Linked DNA regions of Homo sapiens. The protein of the gene in region 2 interacts with the protein of the main gene of each other region in a pairwise test. Each region holds a gene or a part of one and is shown on either strand. Other genes may lie near its edges.

Region 1 (3,450 bases), on a different chromosome or scaffold from region 2:
AAAAAAAAAGAAGACAGCTGGCTTGATTCCAAAGCCCCAAAGAGTTGCCAAAACAAACTTTTACCACACAGCTGCCTGGACCTGGTGGTCGGGAGGAGCACCTCAGTGGTAAGGCTTGGGAAGCCCAGGTGAGAACTCAGCAGAGCAATGAAGCCCTTGAATCAGATGTCCTGTCTTCTTTATCATGCGCCAGCTGGGTGACTTTGAACAAATTACTTAACCTCAGTTTCTCTTCTGTAAAATGGGTATAATTGCACTCTCCTACGCAAGTCATTATGAGAATCAGATTGTGCCACATAAAGTCCTGAGAATATTCAAGGACTTTGTCGCATAAAATCCTTAAAATACTCGAAACAGTCGATATGTGATCGCTGCTATCATAATTAACTATCAGAAAGCCACCTTCTTGTTCAGGCATGAATTATAGTATTCTGCCTTTCACAAACATTTCAAGCCTTTCTACCTGGGTGGAGAAACGAATGAAGAACAAATAAAAGGTGTTCTCAGGAGGTAGAAGCTTTATTATGACATCTTCAAAAGACAATCAAATCAATAGACATTTGCTGAGCACCTGCTGTGTGCAAGCCCGTGTAGACAGTAGGGTCCAGTGTCCCACGCATGGCTCTCGAATCCCCGGGGAGAAAAATCACATCGGGGTCAGGGAGTTTTGCGTGGCTGAGAACAAAGTGGGTTTCTGAACATCAAAGTGCAATTCGCTTTACGGGGCAAACTCCGAGGCCCAGCCCCGCGTGGGAGCCGCAGCGGGGCGGGCCCGCTCTGGGCTGGGCGGGTTTCTCTAGCGCAGCGCTGGGGGTTGCGGGCCTCTCAGCAGCCGGAGCAGCATCCTGAGCTCCGGTTGTTGGAGCGCTGGGACCTCTGGCTGCCGCCCCCGCAGCAGCAGCAACCACTACTCCGCTGTCGGCGGCGTCTCCTTGGGAAGCAGCAGCAACTGGTGGAGCTGGAGCCGCAGCAGCCTGAGTCGCCGCAGCAGCCCCTGCCGGAGCCGCAGCAGGAGGAGGAGGAGGCGGGCGCCGGGGTGGGCGCCGGGGCGGGACACGGAGCGGGGCCCTGGGACGACCCCTTGGAAAAGCCTTTGGCGGAAACGGCGCTCTGTTGAGAGGACATCGCGGAGCTCCTCACGACAAACCTGGAAGAAAGGCAGCCTTTCAAAGGCGAGCCGGCTTTTTCTTTCCACCAATGGAACTCTGTCTGGGCTTTTGAGATTCGGCTTAGTGTACAAGTCAGCCTGGCCTGGGACAAGGAGGGAAAAGCACCCAGAAAGAGCGGACGCAAAGAAGCAAATCCAAGCAGGTGTTTCCAGTGAGTTAAACATGCTCAGAGCAGGACACAATCCATGCAATGAATCAATGCATTTCCATTTTCTCTGACTAGAAGAAGACTGCTCAAGTTCTCCACAGTGGAAAATAAACAGCACACTGCGGCAACTTATCTGTATGATCCAGTCCAAAATCTCCACTTGGCTTTTTTCTTGTCCCTCATTTTACTTTCCTACCGACCTTCGACTGTATCTTCCTAGTTACTACACCCCCATCAGTTAGAAAACACCCAAGTCCAACAGGCGGTCCCACCTGCTGGGTCTAAATAATCCACAGGCCAGAAGCATGTCCTGATCATTCTTTCTTGCCTACGCCTCTCATGCCCCACAACCATGTGGGAAAGGAGAGTTGTGCCAATATAAATAACCCCATCCAGGGAGCTGAAAGACCTGGGTTCTAGTCACAGCTCTTCTGCGGACTTGCTGTGTACCCTTGCAAAAACCACCTCCTATGTTGCCTTTATGTCCTCATTAGTACCTTAAGAGGTTGGCTCACTAGAAGCGTAGGTGCCTTGCGGGACACCCCTTCCACATCTATCTGCTGCCTGTGTTCTGTTTGCTCCTCCCCTGTGCCCTCAACTCATCCCACCCTCTCCCCCAGACCCTGCTAGGAGACTTACCAGACCCTGGCTCCACTGAAAGACTCACTACGTTCTCCAACTGGAATGGGCCACCTGCTAGGCAGTGGATTGAGCAGCGTCCAGCCAGAGAACCTTTTTATAAGAAGTATTCAGGTTCAGGCTCTTGGGAGGGGCCCATTTCCCAACAGACGTGCTCAGCTGACACTCACATCCCAGAGACATTCATCACTCAGGTAGCATTGTAGGTGGTGCATGTGGGCATCTAAGTCACTTCACAGAGGTGCCAGGATTGCTATGGCATGTTTACTTTCCAAACAGGGCACTGTTTGTACCTGGGAGGCTGTGTGTATGCTAAGAGAGGGCATGGGGCTCAAATGCAGGGAGGTCTGGAACCCCTGCCCTTGTCTTCAATACACACACACACACACACACACACACACACACACACACACACAGACGGCTCCACTTGCCCACACATCCATTCCTATGTAGTCATCTACTTGGTAGGTGGTAGTTCACCTATTTTTATCTTGATTCTCATCTCTCTGGCTCTTGGTCCTTGGCTCCCCAGGGCAGACCACAAGCTATGCGATAAGCCTGCTGGGTTTCATCCATATGCTTCAAGATGCAGTGAGTGAAGATGATGACGGGGATGCACCTTTGGGAACCCCAGGGGTGATTTCTCTCTGTCACTGGAGACAGGAAGAAAAACCTAGGCAAAGTTAAGGAACCATAAGACCAGAAAAGTTGTGAATGTAGTCAGGTTGCCATATCCCCATAATACAGCATGGTATGACAAAGAGAAAAATGTGTGCAGGACAGTGGCCCAATTGCAAAAAGGCTAGTCAGCCTGTGGGACTCCTGCTTCTTATCCCACCCCCAACCACCAATCTGCCTTTGAAGATAAGTTCTCCCTAGGGCCACTGCCCAGTGCAAAAGAAAATGGGAAAGGAAGAAGGGAGGGAGGGAAAGAAGAAAAAAAAGAGAAAGAAAGAAAGAAAGTTCTTTCCAAAGGTCCAAAGTGTTCATGATAGATAGTGTTTTCAGAATAACTAATTTTTAAGAATTGGAGGATACTTTGGCAGTCAACTTCAGAACTGCTTCTTAATCAAATTGCCCACAACTGTGAATGTGAACTATAACAGAAGTCCAAGACTAAGAATTCAGGAATTAAGGATGAGAGACAGGTTTGGGGGCGAGTGAGCTGGGAGTGGCTCAAGGGACTAGGCGAGGAAAGATAAGTCACAAAAGATACCAGTTTCATTTAACATGGATTTAGAGCCTGATTAACAGGTTGCCAGTTCCTAGAGCACCTGTTGGTGAGTATAGGTGAGACATTCCAAAAAGTAAAGTCAATATTAGAACAGAGAAGGAAGTAATGAAATAACAAGACAGAGGCAGGATCTCCTCTGGGAAAATGGGCAAAGTTCTTTTAAAAAAAAAAAAAAAGAATGAAGAACGTTTGGTAGGAATCAGTATAAGGAGATAATCTGGGCAAGTGCCTACTCATTCTGTGGGCATCCTATGATCTCA
Region 2 (3,500 bases):
TCTGGCAGTCCAACTTCCTAGCTGTGAGACTTTGGGCAAGTTACCCTTGTTTAGAATTATAGTGCATATTTCTCCAATAGGTTCTTTGAAAGCATATAAACCCTTCAGAGCTAAAAGAAATTTGCCAAACAAGTTAGATACCAATTTACAAGTCTCCTTTTTAGTAAACACAGCACCTAAAGGGAACCTTCCCAAGTTTTAGCTTTATGTTTACTTTCATCATATTAAATTCTGGACTCTTGTCCTCAAACTCATGAATTTAGAATGATGTTGAGCAAAAGGTCTTTTTAAAATACAGGACACAGAGGCATACGGTACCTATTTATCTTTGTTTTCTATTCAGAGTGATGGTTTTCCTACAAGTTTAAGTCAGATTAACTGTTTCTCCTTTATAATTCCTAATAATAGGTACACTCATTGCATTCAGTTACTTTATACCCTTGCTTTTGGTAAGTTTCTTAAAGGAGAAAAGCAATATGATTTTAAAGTAAGAATGTTGAACACATGAAAAAGAGTATTAAAAGTTAATAAAAATATGTTTTTAAGCTATAAAATGACTTAATTTGTTAAGGCCAAAGAGTGGGTAAGGAAACAAGATTCAACACTACTCAACTAATGGAAAGTGCTTATTGTTGAGCAGTGTTTGGCACACCTCCAGAATTCTTTCACAATGCACAGCAGGATACCAACAAGTACTTATAAAGTATACTTTTGGGTCTGAGGGGATCTCTGATCACTTTAATAAGAAATTATGATCAGAATACTTTTGCACTACAGAAAGAAGAGCAGCCTTCCTGCATCAAGGGTCATTTAAATCAGCTCCAGTGCTACGAAATAATGCTTGGTTATAGACAAAATCTACCCAAAGATATAGGGGAAGAAAGCTGTTCTTTTGGGACATATTTGAGTATCTATAACCCTATCAGATGTGACAATCTGATATTTGGGACATATTTGAATATCTATAACCCTATCAGATATGATAATCAATGACTAACAAACTAATCTGGTATTTGGGACATATTTGAATATCTATAACCCTATCAGATGTGATAATCAATGACTAACAAACTAACAAGCCTGTCCTTTCTTATCTTCTAGCTTGACTTCTGTTTTTCGTTTTTTTTTTGTTTTTTTTTAGGGTTCAGAATTTTTCAGTCCTTTACAGTATCTCTATTATAACTAGAATAATTTGGCAGAACCTCGAAATCAAAGTTATCAGTTAAATGAAATGTGTTAAGCCTATAGAAAAATCTTAGTGCTTGTTTTCTCTCAGAGAAAACCTAACTTTGTGAAAACCTAACTCTCCTCACCAAGGAACTCCTAATTCTCCATATTACCCCCTTCGAGACTACGGAGGTATATCTGAAGGAGTACAGGTAAGAAACTAGCATTATTATATGGGATTATACATTAGTAAATTACTGTATAATTATCCGTACTGCTTAGCACTGATCTTGAAGTTTTCAATCCAAAAGAACTTCTTGCAAAACATCATTTAAAATTCATGGAAGAAAAAGGAGACTAAATGAGTCTAGTTTACCACCATATCCCTAGTGCCCACCAATGAATATCTTCAACAAAAATTCACTACGGGTTAACCATGTACCAGACCCTATGCTAGGTAGGCAATGGGAAGTAACAGTACATAAGATCGTCTCTGCTCTTAGAGACTGCTACCATAGGAGAGACTTGACTAAAACTAGGGGGAAACAAAAAAGCGTGGAAAATAGGCTAGTAACCTAAGATTTTGCAAATGATAAGATTTATTCCTATTTCCCCAGATGGTCACATGGCTGGCCTCCTGCCAACACCCAGGTCTCTGCCCAAATGTCACCCGATAACGGAAGGCCCTCTGACCACATAATATAAAGAAGGATCATCCACCATCACCCATTCCTATCATCTACTCATTCTCCTTTCTCATTACCTGTGTAATTTTCTTCATAGTGTTTTTGTTTTGTTTTGTTTTGAGACAGAGTTTTGCTCTTGTCCCCCAGGCTGGAGGACAGTGGCATGATCTCGGCTCACTGCAACTTCCACCTCCTGGATTCAAGCAATTCTCCTGCCTCAGCCTCCCGAGTAGCTGGGACTACAGGTGCTGGCCACCATGCCCTTGTATTTTTAGTAGAGATGGGGTTTCACCATGTTGGCTAGGCTGGTCTCGAACTCCTGACCTCAGGTGATTTGCCCACCTTGACCTCCCAAAGTGCTGGGATTACAGGCGTGAGCCACCATGCCCGGCCTCTTCATAGTGTTTATCACTATCTGACATTATATTATTTATCTGTTGAGCTTTCTTCTCCCATTAAAATGTAAGCTCCATGAGAGCAGGAACCTCATCTGTCTTATCCATTCCTCTGTCCCTTTCACCTAATATAGTGGCTGGGACACAATAGGCATTCAGTAAACGTGTGGAAGGGAGAGGCTCCTACCAGTAACATACACTAAGAATATTTCTGTGAGGTTTTTCCCACCCAGAAAAGCCTCAAACCTAAAAAAAAAAAATTCTGAACCCTAAAAAAACAAACAAACAAACCAAAAAACAGAAGTCAAGCTAGTTATAAGAATCAATAACCACAGAAGAATCCTGAAATCTATGATATCACAAAAGGACCATAATTAGGCAATTATATAAAGAAAGGATTTTCACCCACTATCCACTTTATAACACCTCTAAATCATATAGCTTCTCTTCGGAAAGTTGTCTGGTCAGTTACAATTCATCCAAATAAACACCAGCATAATTTAATCTCTATGAAAAAGACCAATATATAGCCTCTAAGAATCCTTTTCTGTACTTATTCTAAAGCTGCTGTTTTTAAAAGGTTATGGGTGAAGCTGGGATAGAGTTATAAAGTTACAAAGTCAAACTGGCACAGCTAGAGCACTAATGCTAATAAGACTATAAATTTAGGACAGGTCCTCCTTCATTGGCACTCCGTACAGTACCCAGGCACAGTTCTAGCTACATAGTAGGTACTTTACAAATATTTATTGATTTAGCTACATATTAGGTACTTTACAAATATTTATTAAGTTTTCAAAAACCTATTATTGGTATCCATTTTGATATAGAAAAGTAACTTGTGCAAAACCCACCAAGCAACTGCTAAATTCTTGACAGAAAAAGCTATATGGGAGGACTTTGGGCTCCACACTGAACCAAGAGCCATCAGAAAATGCAGCTGTATAGAAAAATGGTTTCTATTTCATCCTGGAACCTCTTAAAAATCAGATCTAGGTACATTATTAATATTTACTTTTCCAAATCCTGCTCTGAACTTGGAGGCGGAGGGAATCAATCTTGGAAATTTTCCAAGAGGAAGAATCTAGTTAGTCCTGATCAATAAATGGCAAACTAGCAGATGAGCTGATGGGTTCTTTTATGTGCTTCTTTTTGCATGTTTATTTTCTGCAGTGAGTAAGCATTGCTTTTGTAAAAACAAAACAAAAAAGCTTTCATTAAAAAACAAAAAAAAATTTAATGACATGAAAGC

Evidence for each region. Proteins that work in one complex are often made in the same cells at the same time.
Region 1: the proteins of LAMP2 (region 2) and CRCT1 interact in binary tests that used the Homo sapiens proteins (3 or more experiments, as listed by UniProt).

What each region holds. Positions count from the first base shown.
Region 1 is NC_000001.11:152,513,059-152,516,508, reverse strand, and holds CRCT1 (cysteine-rich C-terminal protein 1), read right to left. Parts: upstream 2,028-3,450; 5' UTR 1,957-2,027; intron 1,252-1,956; exon of another isoform or gene 1,148-1,251; 5' UTR 1,126-1,147; coding exon 826-1,125; 3' UTR 501-825; downstream 1-500.
Region 2 is NC_000023.11:120,462,797-120,466,296, forward strand, and holds part of LAMP2 (lysosome-associated membrane glycoprotein 2 isoform A precursor), read right to left. Parts: intron 1-3,500. UniProt on the Homo sapiens protein: Lysosomal membrane glycoprotein which plays an important role in lysosome biogenesis, lysosomal pH regulation and autophagy.